Linked DNA regions of Homo sapiens. The gene in region 1 interacts genetically with each later gene. Each region holds a gene or a part of one and is shown in the gene's direction. Other genes may lie near its edges. The genes, in order: MGAT1, C1GALT1 and TRPC6.

Region 1 (7,111 bases):
GCCCTGCTGCTCCTCTTCTTCTGGACGCGCCCAGCACCTGGCAGGCCACCCTCAGTCAGCGCTCTCGATGGCGACCCCGCCAGCCTCACCCGGGAAGTGATTCGCCTGGCCCAAGACGCCGAGGTGGAGCTGGAGCGGCAGCGTGGGCTGCTGCAGCAGATCGGGGATGCCCTGTCGAGCCAGCGGGGGAGGGTGCCCACCGCGGCCCCTCCCGCCCAGCCGCGTGTGCCTGTGACCCCCGCGCCGGCGGTGATTCCCATCCTGGTCATCGCCTGTGACCGCAGCACTGTTCGGCGCTGCCTGGACAAGCTGCTGCATTATCGGCCCTCGGCTGAGCTCTTCCCCATCATCGTTAGCCAGGACTGCGGGCACGAGGAGACGGCCCAGGCCATCGCCTCCTACGGCAGCGCGGTCACGCACATCCGGCAGCCCGACCTGAGCAGCATTGCGGTGCCGCCGGACCACCGCAAGTTCCAGGGCTACTACAAGATCGCGCGCCACTACCGCTGGGCGCTGGGCCAGGTCTTCCGGCAGTTTCGCTTCCCCGCGGCCGTGGTGGTGGAGGATGACCTGGAGGTGGCCCCGGACTTCTTCGAGTACTTTCGGGCCACCTATCCGCTGCTGAAGGCCGACCCCTCCCTGTGGTGCGTCTCGGCCTGGAATGACAACGGCAAGGAGCAGATGGTGGACGCCAGCAGGCCTGAGCTGCTCTACCGCACCGACTTTTTCCCTGGCCTGGGCTGGCTGCTGTTGGCCGAGCTCTGGGCTGAGCTGGAGCCCAAGTGGCCAAAGGCCTTCTGGGACGACTGGATGCGGCGGCCGGAGCAGCGGCAGGGGCGGGCCTGCATACGCCCTGAGATCTCAAGAACGATGACCTTTGGCCGCAAGGGTGTGAGCCACGGGCAGTTCTTTGACCAGCACCTCAAGTTTATCAAGCTGAACCAGCAGTTTGTGCACTTCACCCAGCTGGACCTGTCTTACCTGCAGCGGGAGGCCTATGACCGAGATTTCCTCGCCCGCGTCTACGGTGCTCCCCAGCTGCAGGTGGAGAAAGTGAGGACCAATGACCGGAAGGAGCTGGGGGAGGTGCGGGTGCAGTATACGGGCAGGGACAGCTTCAAGGCTTTCGCCAAGGCTCTGGGTGTCATGGATGACCTTAAGTCGGGGGTTCCGAGAGCTGGCTACCGGGGTATTGTCACCTTCCAGTTCCGGGGCCGCCGTGTCCACCTGGCGCCCCCACTGACGTGGGAGGGCTATGATCCTAGCTGGAATTAGCACCTGCCTGTCCTTCCTGGGCCCCTCCTTGCCACATCATGAGCTGAGGTGGGACCACAGTCCCCAGGCTGCATCGGCCTGCCTGTGTTTCCCTCTTAGGTGCATTTATCTTTTTGATTTTTCCGAGTGGCATTTAAGTGCACAAATGATAACAAGAGGATTATTCTCCCGTTCTCAAGGGAGTCAGATCAGGGGAACTATTCTAGGGTATGTTGCGGGGTATTAAGCAGGAAACCACTGTGTGGTGGGGGGCACTGGGCTTGTTGGGGCCAGAAATGTCCACGTCCTGAGCTTTCTCCTGGAGCATGTGCAGAGAGTTTGGCAACGTTCGCTCTCTTGACCAGACCCCTTCTCCCTGACCTGGCTCTTCCAGCCAGGGCACGAGCCCTCCTTCTATACCTGCTCCCCTTCCCCCAGTGGGGACTGAGTTATGGGAGAAGGGGACATATTTGTGGCCAAAATGATACTAACCAAAGGGGCTTCCTTGTCAGGGCCTGGTGGAGTTGGTGGGTCATCGGGGCTCACTGCCTCCTGCCCTTCTCTCCTGTCTGACCCCCACTTAGCCCTTCTCTCCTTGCAGCCTAGCAGTTTATAGTTCTGAGATGGAAAGTTGAAGGGGGCAAGCAAGACCTCTCCTCAGCCCATGCCCAGCTGTCAGGAGAGAGGTGCAGGGAGGAAGGCCTTGTGCTGGGACAACCTCTCTCTTGCCTTACCTCAGAGAGGGACTATGCCCTGACCCCTCCTTTCTGAAAATCAGTGCCCTCCCTGTTGCTCTAGGAGGCTCCTGCTGGCTTGGTAGAAGACAGAATTCGATCTGCCTGTCCCTTTTTCCCCTGGGGTTTGACACACAGGCTCCTCTCAGCATGAGGTGGAGCAGTGACCAGGTGGAGCAGTGACCAGGACGCCTCTGGCCCAGTGCTGCCCAGCCTCCCCGCCCGCTCCCAGGCGCCCCATGTCCTCACAGGCCAGGACGCCATGGCAGGATGGAGAGGACTTGGTGGATTTTTGTTTCTTGCCTGACCTCAGTTTCATGAAAGAAAGTGGAAGCTACAGAATTATTTTCTAAAATAAAGGCTGAATTGTCTGAAAAATATTTATGTGTGTGTGTCCTGGAAAAGGAGGTGGCAGGCAGGGAAAGAAAGGAAAAGGGAGAATGAAGAGTTAAGGAGAGGGCTAGACGGGTGGGAGGAAGCAAAGTTGAGGAAAGAAAGCAGATGAGTGGGAGGGAAGAGCCAGGGACAGCCCAGGGGATGGGGGCCAGGTGGGAAAGGAAGTCCAGGCCACAAGGTGGAGAGGAGCCCCGGACTGTGCTCCTGCTGATCGTCCTGTAGAGCCAGGAGGCCGCAGCAGGAAAGCTGGTGAGTGTCTCCTGCTTCTGCCTCCTGCTGGCTGGGCAGGCCTGGTCTGGGGAAGAACCAGGTCCTCTGATCAGGGTGGTCCCTGAGTGGTGCTTTGTGCCCGGTGCCCTCTGCTGGCCCAGGCAGTGCTTATTGAGTGCCCTTTATGACGTGCCGGGGAGCCTCAGGGTACACAGCTGATACCAGGGTTGGCCTCACAGTGGCGCTTGGACTCCCAAACGCAACCCCAGTGAGAGTGCCTGTTTTGCTAATACCCAGAACACAGACAGACTGTTACCTCTGCATATCACGTGCAACATTCTGAGAGTTTCTGTTCTCCACTAATTCATTTAAAAGAACAAAACGCGGCCGGGCGCAGTGGCTTACACATGTAATCCCAGCACTTTGGGAGGCTGAGGCGGACGGATCACGAAGTCAGGAGTTCGGGACCATCCTGGCCAACATGGTGAAACCTAAAAATACTCTACTAAAAATACAAAAACTTGCTGGGCATGGTGGCACACACCTGTAATCCCAGCTACTCAGGAAGCTGAGGCTGGAGAATCACTTGAACCCGGGAGGCAGAGGTTGCAGTAATCCAAGATCATACCACTGCACTCCAGCCTGGGCGACAGAGCAAGACTCTGTCTCGGAAAAACAAAACGCTTTTTGTGACTCACGAACTTGATTTCATGAGTGGGTTTGAAAACCCTGGGCTAGTCCAGGCGCGGTGGCTCACGCCTGTAATCCCAGTACTTTGGGAGGCTGAGGCGGGTGGATCACTTCAGGAGTTTGAGACCAGCCTGGCTAACATGGTGAAACCCCATCTCTACTAAAAATACAAAAATTAGCTGGGTGTGGTGGCACATGCCTGTAATTCCAGCTACTTGGGAGGCTGAGGCAGGAGAATTGCTTGAACCCGGGACGGGGTGGTTGCAGTGACCTGAGATCGCACCACTGCACTCCAGCCTGGGCGGTAAGAGCGAAACTGCGTCTCAAAACAAAACAAACCAAAAACCCTGGGCTAGGCAACTTTCTTGGCAGAAACTACTTTGGAGCTCGACACCAGATGGTGGCAGAGTTGTCTGGGGAGCTGTGTCGAGGGCCGTGGCCTTGGGAGCAGCTCCAACCTCCCATCTGGGCTCAGAAACCAGTGTCAGACATTGGTTTTATTTTAACCTTTGAGATTTGTGTGGAGCGGGTTTTGCCTTCCCCTGTTGCTTAGATGGATTATTTAGCCATATTTTTTGTTAAATAAGGGGAGGTGGTCATTATCCGTGATTTCAGACGTGGAATCGGCCCGGCGATAGCTGCATTGTGCCCTTTCCGGTGGAGCCAGGAGGAGTTTGGCCGCCACGCTCCATGCGCATAGCATGTCATGCAGCTAGCCAAGTGCATTGTTCTGAGTGCTCCAGGATAAGTACCAACTTACTTAGTGCTCCAGGATAAGTACCAACTTAGTGCTCCAGGATAAGTACCAACTTACTTAGTGCTCCAGGATAAGTACCAACTTACTTAGTGCTCCAGGATAAGTACCAACTTACTTAGTGCTCCAGGATAAGTACCAACTTACTTAGTGCTCCAGGATAAGTACCAACTTACTTAGTGCTCCAGGATAAGTACCAACTTACTTAGTGCTCCAGGATAAGTACCAACTTACTTGATCCTCAGAGCAAGCCTAGGCGGTGGGTACTGTTTTGCTCCTGTTTTACCAGTGAGGAAGCAGGCACACAGAGGTGAAGTTGCCCAAGGTCACACAGATGGTTGAGGGAGAGCCGGATTGGAATGAACTCTGTGCTGTTAGCCACTGTGTGAGGCTGGACTGTTCCATTCCAGCCTTTACGGCCTCTTCCAGGCCATTCCCCAGCTGCACTTGGATTCTCAGGCCAGGCACCGGCGGTCTCCTGTGAGGGTGGAGAGGAAGAGGGGGCTGCGTGGCTCGGGGAGGTCCAGGAGAGATGGCGGGAGGAGTAGAGTTTGGGGCCTGCGGTGCCAGAGGACCCCCTTACAAGACGAAAGACTGGGTTCTCAGGCTCCTGAAGCAAGGAGCACCTTCAGGGGTCTCCTGGTATTCACCCATCAAGGCTTGCTCAGGTGGCATGCGTGTGTGCGTGGCGGCTGCCCCCGGGCCCGGAAGCGCCTGTGGATACCAAAGCAAGTGGAAATGCCAGATGGAAAAGCCCCGTGTTAGTCAATGCTGTAGAGTTCAGCCAGCCTCGAGTTTGCAGGTTTACAGAGCTGCCTTGCGCCTGGCTGCTGCTGCTGCTGCATTCCTGCTTCTGCCTCCAGCTGTGACCACCTCCTGCCACTCCTGCTCTCACTGTGGGTTCCTGCTCACTCTGTCTCCAGGACAGACTGCCTTCCGGGCAGCCTTCCCTCCTCAAGCCTCTTGGCCTTTGCAATCCTCTTACCTGGGTCACTGGTGGGATCTCATTTGTGGATCAAGTCGCCCCCAGTGGAGACAAATGTCTGATGGAGTCTGGCCAAGGCCCTCCTGAGCCTTCACTGGGCCCTGCATGAGAAGCCTGCCAAGGCTGAGGGGCCAGGGAAACGGAGACGAAGCCCTCAGAGCAGGCCAAGAGGGTGGGAGGTGGGGGGCATTTAGAGGGTTAGATACAGAGCACCCCTTTACAAATACCAGCTACTGGCTTTTCGTATTACATGTTCATTTTAGATACAACATACTGCACACGCTCCCTTAACGTGTGTTTACGCGTGGGTGGTGTATCCTTCCAGACGTCTTCCTCACATCTATACATAATATGCATAGATAAAACATTTACCACCAAAACCCATAGTGTTATGTACATATTTGTCTGGCTGTGTAACTTTAAATAACATACAAATGTATAGAACAGAAGCTTGCCCTCTTTCTGAAATATCTAACGTGGGATTTCAGGCTTTCTGATGAGACCTCTGTAGAGGTCAGTGTTTTGCCACCAGAGGTCCTTCAGCCTCCATCTGTTCTCCCACCTACCCACATTCTGGCCCCTGGCAATTCACAGGGAGTTTAGGAAGTAGACACCAGGGCCCTATTTCCTGGAGACCAGCCTGGTGGCCGATGTCATAGAGTGCGGTGGGCCTGGGCCGGCCCTGCTCTGGGCCCGTGACCTGCGTGTCTGACTCGGGTCCAGCTGTTCTTCCTGCCAGAGCCTCTTCCTGTGAGGCGGGGGTAACACAACCTTCTGTGGTGGCTGTGGGATTAATCCGTATGGCTGCATTGTGAGTAAAGCCTGGTGGAAATCTCTGTCTCCACTGCTTTCCTTTTCCTGCTGTTCACCTTGGCTCCCTCGACACTTAATCCCCCTCCACATGTGTCTGGAGCGGGCAGAGCGGGGGCAGTTGATAGAAAGGGGGCCGGGTAGTGCCAAGGCTGTTACTTTCCCCCACTGCCTCCCTTGGCTAACTTGAAGTCTGACCCTTTATACCAGAACTGTAAGACAGTGTGTCAGAATGGATTCAGTTGCAGAGCAGGAAGCCTGGATCCCAGCGCCGGACGGAAATGAGAGGTCGATGGTGCAGGCTGGTGTGGGGGTTCCTCCACCGTCAGGGCCCAGGCTCCTTCTCAGGTCTCAGTCTCACTCTTCTTAGCACGAGGTCAGGTCTCATTCCTTGGCTGCGGGAGCTCCAGCCAGCACACGTTTTAGGAAGAAGGAGGAAGGAAGAAGGTAAAGGGTGGATGGCAGCTGCCTCCTCCTCTCTTGGAAGCTCACAGAGCGCTGGGTCACAATTCCCTGGGTAGAACTGGATCACACAGGCACCCCTGTCAGCAAAAGAGGCTGGAAAAAGTATTTCTGAAGCTGAATCAAATTAAGATTCCTGTTACTAAGAAGGGAGTGATTGTATGGGCGACTACAGGGACCACGGCCATACACGGTGCCTGGAAGACCAAGCTTGTGACAGTGACGAGGATTTGGAGAGGGCAGGGTGATGGGGAGCTTTGGGGGGAGTGCATTAGGAACCCTGACCTGGAGAGGGGCAGAATGAAACCTGCGGGCCCCTAACCCTAGTGGGTTGTTTGAGAAACCTGTCCTACTGTGGCAGGGGGCTGAGTCTTCTCAGGGTCATGCATGAAAACTGAAATTCCTGAAGGCCACACACAGCCCCGGAAGTGCTGACTGACAAGGGCACATGCCAGTGATGCAGTTTTCTTTTTTGTCTTCACTTTTGTTGTTCCGCCGTCTTCAACACATGGCTCCCAGCTCACAGCAAATGCTGCCCTGGTTCAGCTACCAGGAAGCAGGAGAGGGGAAGGGAGGGCAAGCCTCATTCTTTATGGAACAAAAGCAGTGGGCAGACAGCCTTCCCTCACGTTCCACTCACTGGAATGTGGTCTGGCTGCCTTCCCTGCAGGAGGTGGGATGCACCCTCAGTGCAGCAGCCCTGCCCCAGCCAAAAACGTCTCAGCACAGCTGTAAGAAGAGGAAGATGGCTAGAGACAGGCAGCCTTCCCTGCAAGGGCAATGAGGCAAGCCTGCCAAAAGCCTCCTTTGGAAATA
Region 2 (7,111 bases), on another chromosome or scaffold:
TTGGGAGGCCGAGGCGGGCGGATCACGAGGTCGGGAGATCGAGACCATCCCGGCTAAAACGGTGAAACCCCGTCTCTACTAAAAACACAAAAAATTAGCCGGGCGTAGTGGCGGGCGCCTGTAGTCCCAGCTACTTGGGAGGCTGAGGCAGGAGAATGGCGTGAACCCGGGAGGCGGAGCTTGCAGTGAGCCGAGATCCCGCCACTGCACTCCAGCCTGGGCAACAGAGCGAGACTCCGTCTCAAAAAAAAAAAAAAAAGGGAAGAGGAACAAACCTAAGCTAACACGTTAGCATGCGTATCCCTCATGCCATGTGATGCTCTGTGCCACCTCAAGACTCTTCAGAGGAGAGTCCTCAACAGCAAGAAGGCTCTTACCAGATGTGCCCCCTTTGGCCTTGGACTTTCTAGCCTCCGTAACTGTAAGAAATAAATGCTTTCTCTTTATAAATTACCCAGTTTCAGTTGTTCTGTTATAAATACCAGAAAATGGACTAAGACATAATAGCAAAGTGGTTAAGAGTCTGAATTCCTGATTCAGATTGCTAGTGTGACTCTCTGTGTCTGAATTCATCTGTAAATGGGAATACTAGTCCGTACTTTATAGTTTGCAGATGCTCTTAGTACAGGGTTCAAATGTTAACTGTAATTACCTCTCCTATTTTTGTTATTGCTAGAGAGAAACCTGTAATGATAATCACAAAATATTAATAATTGTTGTTTCTGGGTAGTAGGACTTGTGATGATTTCTTCCTTCTAAATCCTTTTTTAACAATGAATAGCATAAAGCTGTCCCTTTAAAAATAAAATTAAAATATAAATTTTAGTTGTCCCGGGAGTTCTTTTGTATCTGAAACCTCAGTTGTCAAGCTTGGAAATCTGTACTTTTAAAATATCCTCAAGCGATTCTGATTACACATCAGGTTTGGAAGCACTTGGCATAAAGAACTTCCCCCACCCAATTCAAAGAAATAGTATTTAAGCCCTCATAATGTGCAGTGTGGTTAAGCTGTGTCTTTTTCCAGTCTAGTCTACCTCAACACTCTTGTGGACATGATTTTTGCCAAAAATCTGAGTGAGCTTTGGGATGCATTCTACCCCCATGAGATGGCTATTTTATCCCAGGAGCAGGAAAAAAAAAAATGGGAGTTTACAGTTATTTAGTCATAAGGCCGGAGTCCTTTAAATTGGAAGGGAATGTGGTAAACACAACACAAGAGGAGCCAACACATTCTGAGTGTGCTGATACTCTGGGGGAGAAGAGTAAGAGAGTATGACAGGCATCAGACAGCATCACAAAACATTTTAAAGTTAAAAACAATTACGTAACACCAAGAAGTCAGTTTTCCTTACATTCACTCCAGGATAGATGCCTTGCTTAAAAAGTGCCTCTTCAGCTAAGAAAAACTGTGTCCATAAGTACTTCAGTAGCTTTCCACAAACAGTAACTGTTTTTGTGTTATAGAAGTAGGCTTGTTCTGAAGCTCAGCATGTCCTTGGAATATGATTGAGTAGCATGTTAGTATTCATAGTTGATGGAGCTGGGTTAGCACTTCTTTAACTTCAGATATCCATATGATGATAGAAATAGGAATTTTCTCTGGTCCTGCAGTCCTTCCTCTTCTCAGTCACAGTGCTTTCTGCCTAAGTGGTACTGAATGGCATTGTGACTACTGCTTTCTTCTCCAGTGCCAGGAGCGGTAGACTCTGCAGCAGTAAAATACTGTCTTTGTTCTTTTCTGAGATGGTGAAGTGGCTGTGTATGGTATTAAGGCAAAATCACAGCTAGGACAAAAAGCAATGGAAAACCAAGATCAGTGTGCTGTAAGGCAAAGTGTTAGTGAGAGAATCAGAGGATGTAGAGAGTGACAACTCAGTATCTGCTAATGCTCCAGGTTCACTGCTTCAATCGTATTCTGCTTGTCTTCCTCCATAAGAAATTAAGAGTTAAAACATCTTTCATTTACTTCTCTTGGCTTCATGTTTTCAATTCATGGTACTTTCATATCACATACCTCTATTGTAGATTGTCTTGATCATGTATACTGCTAAAGGAAGGACTTGTATAATATCGAACAGATACTTGACTAATCAGTTCTCTCTGGCTGTTTGAATGAAATTTCAAACCAAGATTTCTGGTTAGAGCAAGGTCTAATGAACTGGTCCTCAGACAATCGAGATATTTAGAATTTCAGAACAATCACTTAAGACAGGAGGGATATGTTTTATTGTATCTTTTGGATATAAAGATTACACTAACGGCCAACCTGAATGAGGGAAAGGGGGCAGTAGGGAGGCAGAATTTGAGACCCCCTCATCAGAGAAAACAGCAGAAAGACATGGTAAACTTGTTTCTGGTTTTCCTGTGGCAAATTTGATTGGGTGTAGAGAGAAGGATCGTTGAGTGGGGCTATGTACTCATCATCCATGAAGGCCTACCTTTCTGAACTTGAAGGTACAGTCAGGATAGAGCAAAAGGTGTAAACATGTATCTGATAGTTTCAGATGGTTAATTTACATCTCAAGATACTGGGCAGCTTTGCTTATACTGTGCTGTTCCTTCACCTCTCCTCTTCCTCTTAGGGTTTTTCTTCCCAAACTGGAATTACAATTCAGGAGAGAGCCTGAAATATAAGATATATAATGCAGCATAAGCATGGTGTGTTGTCATGGCATGTCAATTTTACTTGTAGATTTTGGGATATTTTTATATCAAATATGAATATATTAAGTATGTACTTAATGGGATAAAGACACATGAATGGGTTTTTGTATACACTTTTTACTGAAATAAATGTTAATACAGAAAAGTATGTAAAATCATAAATGTAGAGCTTAATGAATGTCACAGAGAACAAGCCATGTAACTACTAGTTTTTTTTGTGGTATCAATAAGCTTTCCTTTAATTACTGTTTGTATGGTATATTTTTCTATTATTTTGCTTTCAACTTTATAAATCTATTTAATATGTGTCTCTTGTAAGCTGCATGTAGATGAGTTTATTTTTCTCGAGTCTGGCTGGCAATCTTTATTTTTTAATTGTAGTTTTTAGTCTATTTGCTTTTAATATAATCATTGATATGTTTGGTTCTAAATCAACCACCTTACTATTTATTTTCTATTTGTCTCATCTATTCTATATTCCCTTTTTTTTTTTTTTTTTAACATTGCCTTGATTTGGGGTATTTTCCCATTTCATTTTTTTGTATTTGAATTTAATTATATTGTTTTACTGTTTGTTTGTTTAAAGATTATATTAGACATCCTTGGTCTTTTAAAGGCTATTATTAATCAGTTTTTTTTTTTTAAACAACTCCTGGACAGTGAAATGACTTTAGAGCTCTTAAACTCTATGGATCCTCCTTATACTTTTTGATGCCAGTTTTGTAATTTGTTTTAATGGTAATAATACTAATATCTTGTGAGACTTTCAAAAAATGTTTTATTATAGCCAATATTTATTTGGATTTACTTACATACATACCCTTTTTATGACTCTCCCTTCCTTCCTACATCTCTGAATTTTTATCTGAAATTCTTTTCCTTCTGCCTGAAGAATTAGAAATAGAACTGTTAGTGATAAATTCACTTAGGTTTTGTTTTTCTGAACATGTTTTTAAGGCTCATTCTTGAAGGACATTTTTGCTGGATACAGAATGCTAGGTTGGTAGTTCTGTTCTTTTAGCACTTTAAAAATAGTTCACTGCAGTCTTGATTCTGTTGTTGCTGCTAAAAAGTCAGCTGTCAATCTTATTACACCTTTGAAGTTTTTTTTTCTGTCCTTGGTTTTCAGTAGTTTGACTGATGTACTTAGGTAACATTTTCTTTTTCTTTGTAATCTTCATTGGGTTTTGTAGATTTTTAATGTGAGGGTTGGTACTGTGTCAGTTTCGGAAAATATTCAGTCATTATTTCTTTAAATACCACTTCTCCTGAGTTATGTCTCTTCCCTCAAAGGTTCCAGTTAACACTTACATTAGACCCTTTCACTTTATTCTGTTTTTTTGCTCAATTCTTTTTCAATCCATTTGTTTTTCCATACTTCATTCTGCGTATTTTCTTCTGACCTAGCTTTTTAGGTTATTAATTTTTTTCTTCAGCTGTGACTATTCTATGCCTAATTTCTTAATCTTGCCATTTAATTTCTTGACTTTATTAAGAATAGTTATTTCTAAGCTAAAAATATGAAAATCTTATTTGAGTCTTTTGGCTCTGTTTCTATTGTCTACTTTTTTGTGTTTAGCCGTAATTTTCATCTTGATGCCTGGTTGTTTTGGACATTGTGTATCAAAATTTTGTCCATGTTGTATACCAAAAAAAAAAAAGTCGTCATGATAATTTGAGGTTCTTCATGATTTTATATTTCTCCAGGAGAATATTTTTACAGTTAGGCTAGGGCGGATCATCCAGTCAGTGGCTGAGATGACTCTAACGTAGACTTCAGCCGTTGTAAAGATTGGTCTATTTTTGTTTTGTTCTTATTCTCAGATTGTAGCCTTTCAGAGTCCTTGATAAGAGCATAGGTGTTTTTCAGGACCTCTTCTCCTAAGCAGACTTTGGACATTAATTTTTGCTTAGCTTTATTGCCCTTGCTGTTTTCTCTTTCAGAATCAGTCATTGTCTTGAGGATAGAGCAGTGCCAGATGTCTGGTCTGCCTCTTTCCTTCCTTCTTCCAGATTTTGGCCCTACTAATTCTCACTGCCTTGATATCTTACCAGTGTCTTCAAACACATATTTATATTTTTTTACATTTTGTTCAGTTTTTCTGATTGCACTTGGTTGTACTAAAAGAACCTAGTCAGCCATTCCAGAAATACATGAAGTTGTTTTGTTTTTATTATTGTAGTGGTGATTGTTGGTTTGTACTTTTGCTTTCACAAACTATTTCAAAGCAATTTTGATTTTTAGGGTTATATTTCCCAGACCTCTACTTTCACTGCCCATTGCCCTCTGCTGTTAGTGGTGATTAGGTGAAGAGTTTGAGAAATGTAATGGAAAGGGCGTGGGTTTTTTTTTTTTGTTTTTTTTTTTTTGAGACAGAGTCTTGCTCTGTCACCCAGGCTGTAATACAGTGGCATGATCTCGGTCCTGCAGTCCTGCCTCCCAGGTTCTAGTGATTCTTTTGCCTCAGTCTCCCAGGTAGCTGGGATTACAGGCACGTACCACAACGCCTGGCTAATTTTTGTATTTTTAGTAGAGATGGGGTTTCACCATGTTGGCCAGGCTGGTCTTGAACTCCTGACCTCAGGTGATCCACCCGCCTTGGCCTCCCAAAGTGCTAGGATTACAGGCGTGAGCCACCACGCCCAGCCGGGCATGGGCTTTTTAAGCACACAGACCTACATTCAAACTGTGGCTCCTTCTGATTGTGTCAGCCTATATGAATTAATTACCTGTTTAAAATTACCTTTTTAAAATTTCTCTTTCCTCATCTGCAGACGGGTTTAGTGAGAATGAAAAAGGACATTGAAATTAAATTTTATTTAAAATGAAATAATGTATGGACAGCTTCTGGTATATAATAAATGCTTAGTAAACTTATTTTTTTAATTATCTTGAGGAATAGGAAACTAGAGTTAAGACCAATCTTTTAAGGAATTTAATAGAAGTTTATAACTTCACCATATAGTAATTGTTAACAAAAGCTTAAAAAGGGCGTTTATGTCAATGTTTGGTTGTGGGGCAGTTCAACAGGCATCTGTGTCCCAGGTACCCTACTTAATCTCGTTAATATTATAGATTCCATCCAAAATCTAGATCTTGCAGTATAGAGCAGAGGTCAGCAAACTTTTTCTTTTTTTTTTCTGAGATAGTTTCACTCTTTTGCCCAGGCTGGAGTTGAGTGGTGCAGTCTTGGCACACTGCAACCTCCGCCTTCTGAGTTCAAGTGATTCTCCCACCTTATTCTTACCAATTCTTCCCAAGTATTCACCTTATTCTTCCCAAGTAGCTGTGACTGCAGGCATATGCCACCATGCCCAGCTAATTTTTTACCATGTTGTCCAGGCTGGTCTCAAGCTCCTGACTTCAAGTGATCCACCCGCCTTGGCCTCCCAGAGTGCTGGGATTACAGGCATGAGCCACTGTGCCTAGCCAGCAAACTTTTTCTATAAAGGGCTAGGTACGGTTTTGTGAGACATATTGCCTCTATTGTAGCTATTCACTCTGCTGTTTTAGGGCAAAAGTAGCCGCAGTCAGTATATAAATGAATGGGCATGGGTGTGTTCAAATAAAACTCTATTTACAAAAACAGGTAGCAGGCCAGGTTTGGTCCATGGGTCCTCAAACTGTGCTGACCCTAGTCCTCCACAAGCTACAAGTGTTTTTTTACGTTTATAAAGGATTGTTTAAGAAGAAGATGCAACAGAAACCACATGAGACCCAAAAAGCCAAAAATATTTTATTTCTAGTTCTTTACAGAAAGGGTTTGCTAACTTTTGGGTTGGAGAAGGGGTGGTGGTTGCTACCAGAGAAAAAGAAGTAGACTTCCGTACTCAGAGTTAACAGCAAAGAAAGAAAAACAACACGACAGGAAGCCCTGGATCCACAAAGGATCCTGGTGGGAAGAATAGGAAATTCTGTGTGCAATACTGACATACTCATCCATACCCCACCCCAACTGTGACTGTCCTACTAATTAATCTGGTTTTATGGATTTTCCATAATGTGCTGTTTTAGCAGCAAATAGAGGGGTAAACTCATAGATAATAGCTAAATACTGTTAGAAATTAACTTTCCGTTATAGCTAAATGTTACCAGAATTTTTACTCCGGTTATGTATACAGCTTTGATTTTATAACATCCTGCTAATTTTTGTTCTTACAGAAATACACTTTCGGGAAATGGCCTCTAAATCCTGGCTGAATTTTTTAACCTTCCTCTGTGGATCAGCAATAGGATTTCTTTTATGTTCTCAGCTATTTAGTATTTTGTTGGGAGAAAAGGTTGACACCCAGCCTAATGTTCTTCATAATGATCCTCATGCAAGGCATTCAGATGATAATGGACAGAATCATCTAGAAGGACAAATGAACTTCAATGCAGATTCTAGCCAACATAAAGGTATGGTTTACTTTATTAAGCAGTAAACATAAGCAGTATTTTAGTCTA
Region 3 (7,111 bases), on another chromosome or scaffold:
TACATGTCTTATGTCCTGGATTTATTTTTCCCTCTTTTTTAATTAAAAATAGTTCACGTTTGATCTATCTCTCTGTATCTCTCTCTCTGTATACATATATATGTATATGTATATATACACGTGTGTGTATATATGCACACACGTGTATATATGTATATGTACACACATGTGTGTGTGTGTATATATATGTGCAATGGAATAGTATTCCACCTTTTAAAAGAAGAAAATCCTGTCATTTGTAACAACATGAATGAACTCGGAAGACATCATGCTGAGTGAAATAAGGCAGGCACAGAAAGACAAATGGTATATGATCTTACTTATTTGTGGAATCTAAAAAAAGTCAAACTCAAAGAAGTAGAAGGTAATGGTGGTTGTCAGGGGCTGGGGTAAAAGGCACAAAATGGGGAGATGTTGGCCAAAGGTACAAAGTTTACAAAGGGTACACGGATAGGATGAGTAAGTTCTAACTTATTAGTTAGAGCTTATAATAAGGGAGCTTGTAATAAGCTTATAATAAGGGAGATATACAGTATAGTGGCTAGAGTTAATAATCATGTACTGTACTGTATACTTGAAAATTGCTGAGAGTAAATTTTAAATGTTCTTACCACAAAAATGTAAATATTCGAGGTGATGAATATGTTAATTAGCTTAATTTAATCTTTGCACAGTGTAGACAGACATATATGAAAACATCAAGTTGTGCCCCATAGATATATATAATAAAGTTCACATTTGAGTGCCATTTTCATTTAAGATATATAAAAAGTATTTGAAAACGAAGGAATTGTTGGGATCTCTGAGAGGTTCCCCAATCAATAACACCACTGTTTCCCAACCAGGCTTAGAATTAGTTGAGAAATAAAACAAGAAATTAATATGGAGGCCAGATCATCACCTCTAACACTGATAAAATCCAGGGTGGATGACATAGTTCTATTAGCTAATGGATTCAGTAATACTGAACCCCAGAATTAGGCAGACATATCCTCCAGTTTCTAGATAGCAATGGGCCAGGGCAGTCCTCCTCACAAAAAGAGGATGGCAGCAAGTGCCCGATCAAGTGAGATCTTCCATGGAGGACCAGAGGAGAATTCCCAAGAGAGAGAAGGTAATGCCGAGCTAACTATGTCCAGTTATTCATCCCAATTTAGCAATCAGATAAGTCATTCCAGCTTTCCAGGAAGAAAGTGACTAAGGGATGGAAATTGGTCCAGTTATGTACTTAAGGAGACTACCACCTCGTAGAAACCTGGATGGGGAAAATATATTCCCTTTGAATACTCATTTCAAACCCTCTGATAAGAAATTAGTTAACATTCACTTGTGAGTTTATTGGCAATATCACATAAGGCCTCCATTATTATTATTAATGTTTATTTTAATGTTTAATTTTAAGATTTTTTAAAATGCACTTAATTAAAAAAATTCAAAGCTATTTGTAGATAATACTTATATTCAAAGCACTATAAAAAAGGAAACTGCTTTTATTAGTTTCTTGTTATCCTCTCCTAATTCCACTTCTCAGCAAATAAGCAAATACAAATTTGTAATTATGTTTTTCCCCTTTCTTACACACTGTTTTGTGTTTTTCTTCATAATGGTTTCTTAGTTGCATTTTTGATGACCTGATGTAATAATGCCAAAAAAATCCATAAGTGAATAATTGCTTCATTTTATGGTAAAAATAGACTTGTTTGAGTGACCAATAAAAGTTACTTCTAATACATTTAAATGACTACAAATATGCTACAAGCCTAAAATTATATTATAGTGTAATTATAGTTTAAGACTGAATAATAAACGCTACCATTTATTAAGTGCCAGGCACTTGCTAAACGCTGAACATATGCTGACTTACTGAATTCTCACGAAGACAAGAGAGTTAGAAGGGATATTATCTCATTTTCAAAAATGGGGAAACAAAACTAGAGAAGTAGTTTGCATAAGTTCTTTGTTATACGTGTGTGTGCGTACATACATACATGAATTTTTACAGATACTGAGTCTATAGTCTGAACTCTTAACTATTATGCTATCCCCTTATGGGAAATTGCTAGTAAACCAGGAGAGTCATGTTCTCAATAAACTAAGAAGCTCAACTCTAGCAGACACTTAAGAAGCCCTTTAAGATAGGAGACTTCCATTCGAAAACCGGATTCTAACATAACTATATTTCTTTCGCAGAAAAAGAAGTTACCTAAATAAAAAACTTGAAGAAACTCACACAACTCTTTGTCTTTGCTTTTTCCTAGCCAGGATAAAGTGGGACCCCTCTGATCCTCAAATAATATCTGAAGGTCTTTATGCAATTGCTGTAGTTTTAAGTTTCTCTAGGATAGCTTATATTTTACCAGCAAATGAAAGCTTTGGACCTCTGCAGATATCACTTGGAAGAACAGTCAAAGACATCTTCAAGTTCATGGTCATATTCATTATGGTGTTTGTGGCCTTTATGATTGGAATGTTCAATCTCTACTCCTACTACATTGGTGCAAAACAAAATGAAGCCTTCACAACGTATGTGATCTCAGATATTTTGATGATAGTTATTGCAAATTAAATAAATATTAGTTTAACAGCGTTTATGTAAGTCCATGGGATAATGTTTTGGTAAAGACTTCATCTCTAGTTCCTGTTTTGCAAAATGAGGGGATTTTACAAATGAGTTGGAGGGACTCTAAAATATAGGAAGCTTTCTAATATTAAATAATAACTTACATTTTTAGAGCCAGGTAAATACCTTGCATGCCTCCCTTTATTATCTCTATTTCACCAAGAGGCAACTGAAATTCACAAAAATTAAGTAATTTGCTGAATATTCCATAGCTGTGTGTGGAACAAGCCAGGCTGTAACCCTTGCTTGCTGACTCTAGGGTCTGTTGCTCTAAACTCCCTTACCCTCCTGCTTACAGGGGACTCACTCCTGGGGATGCTAACTATGAAAACAGCTACTTTCCTAATTGAATTTCTCAGATCTTATCACTGAGTAGATATGACTTATCAATAGTGGCAAGAGTTTTGACTTATGTTCACCATGGACACGTGTTTTTTTTTTCATAAAGTGTGTTTGGAATAGATTATTTAAATATTAGGTCTTCAGTGTTATAATAAGAAGCAACAACTGAAATGTAAGCCTACTGTTTTCCATATTTCTCTAAAATACAGTTTGCCAGGGAAGTGAAACCACCTGAGTTAAGCAAACTGGCTTAGCTTTGGTCAATAATTAGGCCTAAAGCATTGAAATTCCTACCTAAGACATGTCAGTGATTTTGGTAACATTGTCTGTTTATATTGTATTTTCCATTAAGATGTATATGATTATTATCTATTGGATATGAGTAGAAGTATAGATCAGGAGGAAACCTAAAAGGATTCTAACAATTCCATTGCCAACGCTATGGATTAAGTGTTCATATCTGTGGTTATGAAATTATGTTAATAGCATTTATTGAGTGCTTATGTATTTAGATATTGAGCTATGATTATGTACTTCATATGCACAATATTACCCCATCCTTGCAGCAATCCTATTGTAACCATTTTACAGAAAAGAAAAGTGAGCTTCAGAGAAGTGAAGAATTTTTTTTATACTCACTAATTTGCAGACACTAAACAAACTCACTTTTATTATGGTAATATTGTTATTTATTTATACACTTTCTTATTTCTTTTCTTCTGTTATTTTTTCCCCAGAGTTGAAGAGAGTTTTAAGACACTGTTCTGGGCTATATTTGGACTTTCTGAAGTGAAATCAGTGGTCATCAACTATAACCACAAATTCATTGAAAACATTGGTTACGTTCTTTATGGAGTCTATAATGTTACGATGGTCATTGTTTTGCTAAATATGTTAATTGCCATGATCAACAGTTCATTCCAGGAAATTGAGGTATAATCTCAATACATTTTTATAATTTGTGCCTTCATGTTTTAACTATTCCAAGGGCTAACTCAGCAATGGGGATGAAAGCATGGACTGCTCTTCGCCCTTTGTTCATTCCCTGTTTTATACACTCGTTTGACCAGTAATCTGGAAAATTTTAACTCTTTGCTTCCAAATGCAACATCAGTAAGGTGTCATGGGGCAGAGACGTAAGGCATAAGAAGCAGAAATGCTGATTTGATACTAATTTAATAAAAAACTTTAGAAATACTATATCAGCATGAATTTATATTTTATTCAAAAAATTATTGCTTATGAATACCATCATTCTCCAAGTCTTTTTTGAGTGATATTCAAAATTGACCTTTTCTCAAGTTGAGATTAATAGTGTAAATTTTTATTCCAGAAATCTTGATCTGTGTCCCAAATAAATGAGTGGTATATTTCAGAATAAAAGAGAGAATAATTTTTCATAGCATTTTTCAGAAAGTAGGAAAATACATTTATATCTATCAGGTATTTATAAACACATGGGAACTTGGAGATTAATAGTCTTGCAAGACTGTCAAAATTTTAGACAAATTTAAGAAAGAATATGTGAATAGAATGTTAACATTTTGAAAAAATCTTGGAACGATCACTGGGGTCTGAGAGTGTTTATAGGCATTGTCCTCCATCTAGCTACACAATGTTAAAAGCATCCCAGTAATTCTGTTTATGCATTTCCTTGCTGAACTGTCATGTGTATTTGTATAGGATGACGCTGATGTGGAGTGGAAATTTGCAAGGGCCAAACTCTGGTTTTCCTACTTTGAGGAGGGCAGAACACTTCCTGTACCCTTCAATCTGGTGCCGAGTCCAAAGTCCCTGTTTTATCTCTTACTGAAGCTTAAAAAATGGATTTCTGAGCTGTTCCAGGGCCATAAAAAAGGTTTCCAGGAAGATGCAGAGATGAACAAGGTAACTTAGCTTGATAAGTTATCATTGTATTCTTAAATTTTGTGACTACTGTAACCACTATGCCACATCCCTTTAAAGAGAAGCAGTTCCTGATGACACATCCATTCATTCCCATATGCAGTCACTTCACACAGCACAGTCCTTTGGCTTGTGTCTGTTCAACATGAGCACACTGGACATTTCCTACTTAAAAGAATGTAAGAAAAATTCATGAAATATAACTAAAATAATATGTTATCTGGAGTGGGTACTGAAAGAAGAACTATTCTGGGCTGCTTTTTTGCTGTTATGGCTACATGTCCCTCACTTTTCCTACAATTTATACAGCCCAGTAAATCGGCAGCAGCTTGTTATGACTCGGGGAGGGGGGGGGGGCGGGGCAACTTGATTAACTCTTAGATAGCTTCTACATTGAAAAGTTCAGAAATCAGTTGCTCACATAGAATTTGGGAGACCAGGCTTGGCAATAAGTAGTTCAAGAAAGAAAGAGCTAAGGACATTGATTGAAAACAGTAATCCCACAAGGTGATGCAATCTTTAAAAAAAATAAAAAGATTTAGTGCTTAGATGAGGCAGTAGGGCGATCACAGCATGTTCAGATATGTTTAGAGAACATGTGGAATTTGTGTCTCACTGGAGGTGGAAGGTGAGGGCTTATGCTATGCAAAGATCTCTGCTGAGCATTTAGACCTCTGTACTCAGAAGGAGCACTGAGATACCAGGTGTATCCAGAGGAGGAGGACCAGAATGGAACACATATGGATAAAGTGTCATATGAGGGAGGACTGAAGGAGCTGGCTGTTTCTTCTGAAAAAGGAAGATTGAAAGTGACTAAAAATATCTTTGTAATTTCCATCTTTAATTAGGAAGTACACTTGTTTTTCAAAAATGGGAAGAAAAGCAATGGGCCAAAAATTCAAATTGTTAAATTTTAATTCGATATAAGAGCAAACTTTTAATAAGAAAATCTGCCCAACAGAAGAATGGGCTGCCTTTAGAAGTAGTGAGCCTCCCACCATTGTAAGAAGTCAATAAATGCCAGATGGCTGACAGTGGGAATGTATTGAAGATTTTTCCTTCTTACACTGAGTGGGCAATTGGGCCAAATGATTATAAAGTTTCCTTGCAATAAGATTCTATCATTAAATAAAAGGAAAATGTTGTAATTCCTGCACTGTTTCCCATTTACTATTTAGGGTGCTCAAGTAAGTAGCACATTCTCTGAGTTCTAGTTTCCTCAACTGTAATATGTGAAAAAAATTATATCTACATCCTGAAGATCAACTCAAATAAGTATATAAAAGTACTTTGAGAATTTTAAAGCTTTCTTTAAATGTGATTATGATTAATTTGTGTAGGAATTTTGGAAAAAATACAATCTATGATATTCTTCCAGAAGTATAACTTACAGAACTCAGTGGATTGAGTGGCAAAAATTTCCCTTCCTTTATTTTACTTAATTAAATGGGTGGTTTACAGGTCTGGTTAGAACTGCAACCTGAGGGAATTCAGAGTCCAAAGGAAATGTCTAAGCAAGCACTTGCAAAGGGAAGAACCCCGTAAGAATATGTTTCTCTCATTAAAACTTGTTGGAGAATTAGACGAAATGGCTTTTAAAATACAGAATGAAGAGTGAAATTGGTTATGCAGTTATACTCATTTTACTATCTATCTTTAAAAGATAAATGAAGAAAAGAAACTTGGAATTTTAGGAAGTCATGAAGACCTTTCAAAATTATCACTTGACAAAAAACAGGTAAGCTCATATTTGAAAATATGAAGTCATGCACATGATCGGGCTTATCTTTTCAAAGAAAGGGACAGATGTTCAGAAGCAATTTTAGCAAGTAGAGAACAGACCCATTAAATAATTCAACTATTTTAACAAATCTCAACAATTCTGTTATTGAGAGGTAGAAATAAGCTATGTTTGATAAGCAAAAAAGAATAGCATGTACATTTAAGACATATACTAAGCACATATATATACTTATGGTGATGGAATAGAAGACTGGTGATATAAAGAAGGGAATATTCTGTCAGGAACCTGATGGAGGGTATGATTAACTTCACTCTTTGCAGCTCAGGTAGAGAGCAGGCATGGTCCCCAGTGCCTCCTAATTTGTCAATAATCAAGAAGCGATGGAAAAAGGCACTGTGGGACCTTAATGGCTATTGTGGTCGACACCGTGTATAATGAACAATGTACTCTAGAGATCTATCAGCTCCTTCACTGAGAGTAGCAAAATCCTCAACGATGAG

The links.
Region 2: of MGAT1 (region 1) and C1GALT1, changing one enhances a phenotype caused by changing the other (phenotypic enhancement), as found in Homo sapiens cells (one study listed by BioGRID).
Region 3: of MGAT1 (region 1) and TRPC6, a change in one rescues a mutant of the other (synthetic rescue), as found in Homo sapiens cells (one study listed by BioGRID).

The regions. Positions count from the first base shown.
Region 1 is NC_000005.10:180,785,798-180,792,908, reverse strand, and holds part of MGAT1 (alpha-1,3-mannosyl-glycoprotein 2-beta-N-acetylglucosaminyltransferase), read left to right. Parts: coding exon 1-1,275; 3' UTR 1,276-7,111. UniProt on the Homo sapiens protein: Initiates complex N-linked carbohydrate formation. Essential for the conversion of high-mannose to hybrid and complex N-glycans.
Region 2 is NC_000007.14:7,227,477-7,234,587, forward strand, and holds part of C1GALT1 (glycoprotein-N-acetylgalactosamine 3-beta-galactosyltransferase 1), read left to right. Parts: intron 1-6,826; 5' UTR 6,827-6,843; coding exon 6,844-7,063; intron 7,064-7,085; exon of another isoform or gene 7,086-7,111. UniProt on the Homo sapiens protein: Glycosyltransferase that generates the core 1 O-glycan Gal-beta1-3GalNAc-alpha1-Ser/Thr (T antigen), which is a precursor for many extended O-glycans in glycoproteins.
Region 3 is NC_000011.10:101,468,921-101,476,031, reverse strand, and holds part of TRPC6 (short transient receptor potential channel 6), read left to right. Parts: intron 1-2,258; coding exon 2,259-2,523; intron 2,524-3,699; coding exon 3,700-3,895; intron 3,896-4,645; coding exon 4,646-4,849; intron 4,850-6,530; coding exon 6,531-6,605; intron 6,606-7,111. UniProt on the Homo sapiens protein: Forms a receptor-activated non-selective calcium permeant cation channel. Probably is operated by a phosphatidylinositol second messenger system activated by receptor tyrosine kinases or G-protein coupled receptors.